2 linked regions of the Homo sapiens genome follow. The protein of the gene in region 1 purifies or fractionates together with the protein of each later gene. This does not show direct contact. Each region holds a gene or a part of one and is shown on either strand. Other genes may lie near its edges.

Region 1 (3,500 bases):
TATCTCTATCAGGTGAAGTAAAAGGTAGGTGATAGTAGTTACTGGCAGTCTAGAATGGAAGTGAGTTAATGTAATATCCAGCATTTTTATCAAATAATACTCACCAACATCACCTTAACTACCTGAACAGCATCTACCAATGATACCCACAGGTGTCCTGGAGATCTTGAAATCATCTCAGGTAGAGGAAGCTTTCAGAACCACAGAGCTTAGTTACATTTTCTTTCAAAAGGCCAAATTCTCCAAAAACGTCCTATGCAAACATCCTCGATTTCTTCCATAGGTTTTATGATAAGATCTGTAGAATGCAAAATATTGGATTAGACATTAAGCAGTATCCAAGTCATGTATAATCCTATGAGCAGAATGTCCTTTTGTTTCCTTCATGTTGGGGATAAAATTTTTTATTAGTATTGCCATATCATTTTATTCATTCATGATTAAGTCAATAAAAATTTCAGCTGGGGCCATGGTTGGCCAGGTGTGGTGGCTTATGCCTGTAATCTCAGCACTTTGGGAGGCTGAGGTGAGTGGATCACTTGAGGCCAGGAGTTCGAGACCAGCCTGGCTAACATGGTAAAACCCTGTCTCTACTAAATAATACAAAAATTAGCCAGGCGTGGTGGCGCATGCCTTTAGCCCCAGCTACTAGGGAGGCTGAGGCAGGAGAATCACTTGAACCCTGGAGACAGACGTTGCAGTGAGCTGAGATCATGCCACTGCACTCCAGCCTGGGCAACAGAGTGAGATTGTGTCTCGAAAAAAAAAAAAAAATTCCACTGGCTGGGCACAGTGGCTCACGCCTGTAATTCCAGCACTTTGGGAGGCCGAGGTGGGAAGATCACGAGGTCAGGAGATTGAGACCATCCTGGCTAACACGGTGAAACCCCGTCTCTACTAAAAATACAAAAAAAAAAAAAAAAAAGCTGGGCATAGTGGCGTGCGCCTGTAATCCCAGCTACTTGGGAGGGTGAGGCAGGAGAATCACTTGAACCCGGGAGGCAGAGGTTGCAGTAAGCCGAGATTGCACCACTGCACTCCAGCCTGGGTGACAGAGCGAGACTGTCGCAAAAAAAAAAAAAAAAAAAAAAAAATTCCAAAACTCTTCCCACTTTGTGACGTGCAGTTCTCCAGGCACTGGAGCTATAACTGAACAAACAGCCTGAGTCCCTTCCCTCACACAGTTTAAATCCTAGTGGACAGAAGGCAGACCCTAAACCAATATTTAATGTGTCATTTTTTATCTTTTTTCTACATGAGCAACCCAAATACACCCGTTTAGTGCCAGAAATCTCTTTGTGTTTTCACCTCGTTCTGGTTCCTGGTTCTGCCAGTGACAGATGTACAGGGATGCAGCTTCTTCAGGGTTCTGAGATGCTTTCAGTGGGAAAGGGGCGCTTGGATCTACAATAGATAATAGAATTTTCTGTGTTTCTGCTCCCAAAGATGATCCTGCCAGGTACTAAGCTAGTAAATGAACACGCTGAGTTTCTCCTTGCAAATTTAAATAAGTCTTCTGCTTGCTTTTATCATCAAAAAGTCCTAACTCTATACCAAAATATGAGTTTTCTAATTTGCCATACCATAGAAGAAGGGTGTGTATGCAGTAAGTACAAAAGGAAAATAAATGTCTTCCTTTCAGTGAAAGAGCTCTTAGACCCACTGCTTTTTATTCACTGTGCTGCTTGAAGTGAGGTTAGAAAAGGAAAGCTCACTGGGCTAAGAGTCAGGAGACCCAGGTCTAGTCCTGCTTGTGCCGGTCACTATATGGGTGACTTTGGGAAAGTCATTTGCCTCTCCAGAGTTCATTCTCCTCAATTATAAATGAAAATGTTACAACTGAAAATTTATATATTATCAGCTCTAGTATGTTTCTAGTATTGCATTCGTTTCTCCACTTCGTAACTTTCATGGTTTTTCCAGTGGTCAGATTTGGGCAGAAAGCACTGATTCAAGAACACAGATTTCCAAGTAGAGAGGTGCAGGGTAAATAAACCTCCATGTAAGCCCGCGGTGAGCGCAGACTGTGAGTGACGAACACGGTGTCAGTGTAAGCTGGAGGTGGTGGGCCAGGAGGATTAAACAGGGTAAGGCAGCTTACCACTGTGCCTGGCGATGCGCAGAGTAAGTGCTCAGTAAACGGTAGCTGCTGTTATTAGCACTGTTATTATCATTGTCAGCAAAGAACACCTAGACAGCCTTGAGCACTGGAAGGCACCTCAGAGACTGTCACAGGGGTTCCTTGCTAGGATTCCAAGGACCCCAGTTTCAGCAGCTTCACGAACACCCTGAATTGCACACAGATGGCGTGTGTGTGCACATCCTATATTTCTTACACCTTTCAGTAGAGAGGGTCCCTAGTTTCCTTGGCTTCCTCAGAGAAAATGTAACAAATGAGCACAGTGCCTGGTCCAGAGGGTGGCCTACCTTAGGGCCAGGTGTGCTGACGGAGGTACCTTGAGCTGATACTCATTTCCCTCCCTCCTCAGAACTGTCTTCTCAACCACCTTCTCTCTCCTACAAAGATATGCCAAGTGCTCTTTAGGGACAGTACCAACACTTGACAAATTCAGCTCAGCATGAATGTCATTGAGCCCATGCCCCGTACCAAGGCCCAGGCTAGCGAGTGTAAGGAGTACAAAAACAAGTGGGTGTGGTCGCTGCCCTTGGGACTCACATTCTAGTGGAGAAGTCAAACAGACCCAGCTCAGATACAGAGCGGCGCAGGGCAGAGTGCTGAGTCTAGGATTACAGTGCAGGCTCATGGAAGGAGGTGGAATTTGTGCTGGGCCTATGTCAGAAACTCACAAGCAGGGAGAAGCACGTGGGGAGGTCAGCAGTCCAGGCAGAGGCAGGAGCATCATGTCAGCAGATCGGTGGGAAATCTGGTGGGACTGGAGTCTCTGGAGTGGAGACAGGGAGGAAACAGTGAAAGGAAGATCAGAGACAAGAGGGTAGGGCAGAGCTGTGGCTAGCTTCTGAATACTGAACCTGAGAGGTTTGAGTTTATCAGGTAAAGGAGGAGGACCCTTCACAGATGCTGTTCAGAGTCGTGGGATCCCGCTGGGAAGTGTGGCTGAGCTTTGCTGTGTTGTTCATCCACTTCTGTTTTCTGACTTGGTGTTAGCCACATTTTTTTATGGTAAAATTCAAAAACATAAAATTTACCATTTCAACCATTTTTACAGTGGCATTATCTAACATTCACAGTGTTATGCAACCATCACCACCATCTATCTATATAACTGTTTTAATCTTGCAAAACTAAAACTCTGTATCCATTAAACACCAACTCCCCAGCTCCCCTCCCAGCCCCGGACAACCACCATTCTACTCTCTGTTTCTGTGACTCTGACCAGTCTAGGTACCTCATGTGAGTGGAACCATGCAGCATTTTTCTTTGTGGCTGGCTTCATTCACTTAGGAAATGTCCTCAAGCTTCATGCATGTTGTAGCATGTGATGTGATTCCCTTCCTTTTCAAGGCTGACTATTCCATTG
Region 2 (3,500 bases), on another chromosome or scaffold:
TGTCCCCCTAGGCCTTCGATGTGGTGGAGAGGAGCTTCCTGGAGTCCATTGACGACGCCTTGGCTGAGAAGGCAAGCCTCCAGTCGCAATTGCCAGAGGTAATTTCCCCAGCCGACACCCAGGGGAGTCAAGTCCAGGCCCAGCTTTGCAAGGAGCATGGACTCATCTACTTTCTTGACATTACTGGGCCAGAGCAACAGGCGTTAGGGAGCAGTTCCTGATGGGTGACACTGGTGTGTGGCCACAGGTGAGGGACCTCGCTGCTCTGCTGTGGGCAGCTGCATGCTAAAGCTCAGCAGTGTCTGGGCAGTGGTGGACATGAGGAAGGGCTTTTCCCAGTCCTTCGTCCTGAATGGGTCCCCGCCCTTGTCAACCACCTGCTCACATCGCCTACTGCCACCTGCAGCGCTTACCTCTGTGCTGTGAGTTCGGTCATCTCCAGCTTTCTGGAAGAACCTTAGCCTGGAGCTGTAGCGAAGGCTTCATCTTGGCTGTGCCATGGACCATCTGTCTGTCTGTCCCCCGGGCCCTCGGATCTTTGCTCTTAAGAGCAAAGGGAGGCCGGGCATGGTGGCTCACGCCTGTAATCCCAGCACCTTGGGAGGCCGAGGCGGGCGGATCACAAGGTCAGGAGATCAAGACCATCCTGGCTAACATGGTGAAACCCCGTCTCTACTAAAAATACAAAAAATTAGCTGGGCGTGGTGGTGGGCGCCTTGTAGTCCCAGCTACTCTCGAGGCTGAAGCAGGAGAATGGTGTGAACCTGGGAGGCGGAGCTTGTAGTGAGCCGAGATCATGCCACTGCACTGTAGCCTGGGGGACACAGCGAGACTCCATCTCAAAAAAAAAAAAAAGAGTAAAGGGAGTGGAGAGGGCTAGGAAGATGGTCCAGAGTTCTGTCCTGCCCTGACCCTCTGTTGATGGTTGTAGGGAGTCCCTCAGCACCAGCTGCCTCCTCAGTATCAGAAGATCCTTGAGAGACTCAAGACGTTAGAGAGGGAAATTTCGGGAGGGGCCATGGCCGTTGTGGCGGTCCTTCTCAACAACAAGCTCTACGTCGCCAATGTCGGTGAGCCCCCTCCTGTCCCAGGGCAGGGAGGACTGGGGAGAGGTCAGCCACAGGGGTCGGTGCATTATTTGACAATCTGCTTTCCAGACACTTCACGCACTTTAAACCCAGGGTCTCCTGAGACCGTTGGGTATGTCCCTCTCCACAGTGACGCCTCAGTCCCAACTGGAAGGGAGAAAGGACGGGATGGGAGACAGGTGTCCTGGCCTTTAGTCCCTATTCTGCTTCTTAACTCATTCTGGACGAGTCGTATCCCATTCTGGGTGGCCTTGGGGGCCGCTGCTTCTGGAAGAGGTTACCTGGCCATGAATAACCAACCAGTATCCCCATGAACAGCTGCGAGATGGGGCTAGGTGACAGGGACATTGGGGTTTGTGAGAAGACCAGACAGGTGCAGGTTTCAGTAGAAAGGACTCTGTAGAGACCCTTCTGATGATGCTGCCTTTTTTTAATACTCCAGTGGAAAATTTTCCACAATATAGAACAATAGAGTGACTGATATTTAATGAACATTCATGCGCCCATCCCCAATCCCAGCAGTTATCAACTGTGGCCAGCCTTCTTTGTCCCCACGTTCTCTATTTTGAAGCAAATGCCAGACACTGTATCATGTTATCTGTAAATATTTCAGTCTGTATCTCTAGAGAAGAGGTCTGTTTTATTAAGATCATAATCCTATGATTACACTGAAAAAGTTAAACCCAATTCTTTCGTATCACCAGCTGTCCCTAACTGGTGACTCACCCCGTTGGTCTGAGCCTGTTTTGCCCATTTCAGGTATTTCCATGTGTGAAATGCCTGCCTTTTCCCTCTCTGCCTTCCCGGTATGCCCTATTTCTCTCTGTGTGTAGTCTTTGCTTAGCTGTTCACATTCTGCCACAGGTACAAACCGTGCACTTTTATGCAAATCGACAGTGGATGGGTTGCAGGTGACACAGCTGAACGTGGACCACACCACAGAGAACGAGGATGAGCTCTTCCGTCTTTCGCAGCTGGGTGAGTGGGGAGAGTGGGAGCGGAAGCTGATCCCCATGGGCTCACCCTTCGCCTGCCTTTGGTGGTGGGGTAGAGAGGCGTGTGGTAGAGGGGCTGTGATCTTGGGCTCCCCAGCCAGCCTGCCTGGGGTTCATTCCCAGCACTGCCGCTTACTGGTTGGTGATTGGAACTTAAGTTTTCTGTGCCTCAGATCCCCCGCTGTGTAATGAGGATAATAGTAACCTACCTCGGGATGCTAGGAGGATTCAGTTAGTGCATGTGAAATGCTTCCTGGAGTGCCTGGCACACAGAAGACACTTACTGTTATTGGTGGAGACTGAAAGAGGCCAAAGAAGTCCAGGGAGCCCAGCTGCTGCTGAGCTGCTCCTTCCCTTCCCAGTGAGCTCCAGGCAGATGTGGGGCACACGGGATGGGCAGGGAGACGGCAGGCAAGCTGCTCCGTGCCAGGTGGTGCCTGGAGGACGGGCTCTGAGTGAGGTGTGTCGTGATGGGCGTGGGGACTGAGGACACCAGGGACTTTGGGTCAGCTGCTCTCCCAGGTGCCCTGGTGTTGTCTTCATTTCCTATTCAGTGGGTCCTTATTGCCTTCTTCCCATGACTGTGTCTCTGTCCCCTTCTTTTTGTTCCTCTTTGTGAACAAGAAGCAGGATTGTTGCACTGTTTCCCTCCGTAGGCTTGGATGCTGGAAAGATCAAGCAGGTGGGGATCATCTGTGGGCAGGAGAGCACCCGGCGGATCGGGGATTACAAGGTTAAATATGGCTACACGGACATTGACCTTCTCAGGTAGGTGCCAGCCCAGCTGTCCCCTGTGCTTGAAAGAACAGAAGGTCCTAGGGAGGCCAAGATGGGAGGATTGATTGTGCTGGGAGGTCGAGGCTGCAGTGAGCCGTGATCATGCCACTGCACTCCAGCCTGGGCAACAGAGCAAGACCCTGTCTCAAAAAAAAAAAAAGGTCCAGAAGGCCTGGGGCAGACGCAGACTGTAGGCCCCAGTGACACATGTGCAGTCAAAGTAGTTCAGAGCCCAGGCAAACTCTTTCTTCCTCCCAGAGAGGTTGGTTTGGGGCAGGTTAGGCCCAGCAGGCCAGGAGTTGGGTACTGTAGAAACAAGGGGTGGAGTTGAGCTGGGCCAAAGCTGAGGGCAGCAACTAGTGCCACAAGGGAGGCAGGCGAAGCCAGAGTTGGCATGGGATGGACAGACCAGGCCTGTTGGTCGGTGCTGCCCATGGCTGCAGCAGAGGTGTGAGATGAATTGTGTATTTCCCTCTGAGGACACCTCCTCTGGACATCACCCCAGCGCTCATGGCAGCAGAATGGGCAGTCATCATCACACGGCCAAGCCCGTGCAGAGCTCTGGATGTACCTTCTTTTATGCATTCCCTACTCAGGCCCCCTGAGGCAGTCACTGCCATCACCCCAGAGGCATTTTCAT

Evidence for each region.
Region 2: the proteins of RIPK1 (region 1) and TAB1 purify together in Homo sapiens (affinity purification with mass spectrometry; 3 studies listed by BioGRID and IntAct, with this or other methods). This does not show direct contact.

The regions. Positions count from the first base shown.
Region 1 is NC_000006.12:3,106,494-3,109,993, forward strand, and holds part of RIPK1 (receptor-interacting serine/threonine-protein kinase 1), read left to right. Parts: exon of another isoform or gene 1-298; intron 299-1,308; exon of another isoform or gene 1,309-1,404; intron 1,405-2,808; exon of another isoform or gene 2,809-2,903; intron 2,904-3,500. UniProt on the Homo sapiens protein: Serine-threonine kinase which is a key regulator of TNF-mediated apoptosis, necroptosis and inflammatory pathways.
Region 2 is NC_000022.11:39,416,780-39,420,279, forward strand, and holds part of TAB1 (TGF-beta-activated kinase 1 and MAP3K7-binding protein 1), read left to right. Parts: intron 1-11; coding exon 12-98; intron 99-931; coding exon 932-1,070; intron 1,071-1,952; coding exon 1,953-2,066; intron 2,067-2,739; coding exon 2,740-2,851; intron 2,852-3,500. UniProt on the Homo sapiens protein: Key adapter protein that plays an essential role in JNK and NF-kappa-B activation and proinflammatory cytokines production in response to stimulation with TLRs and cytokines.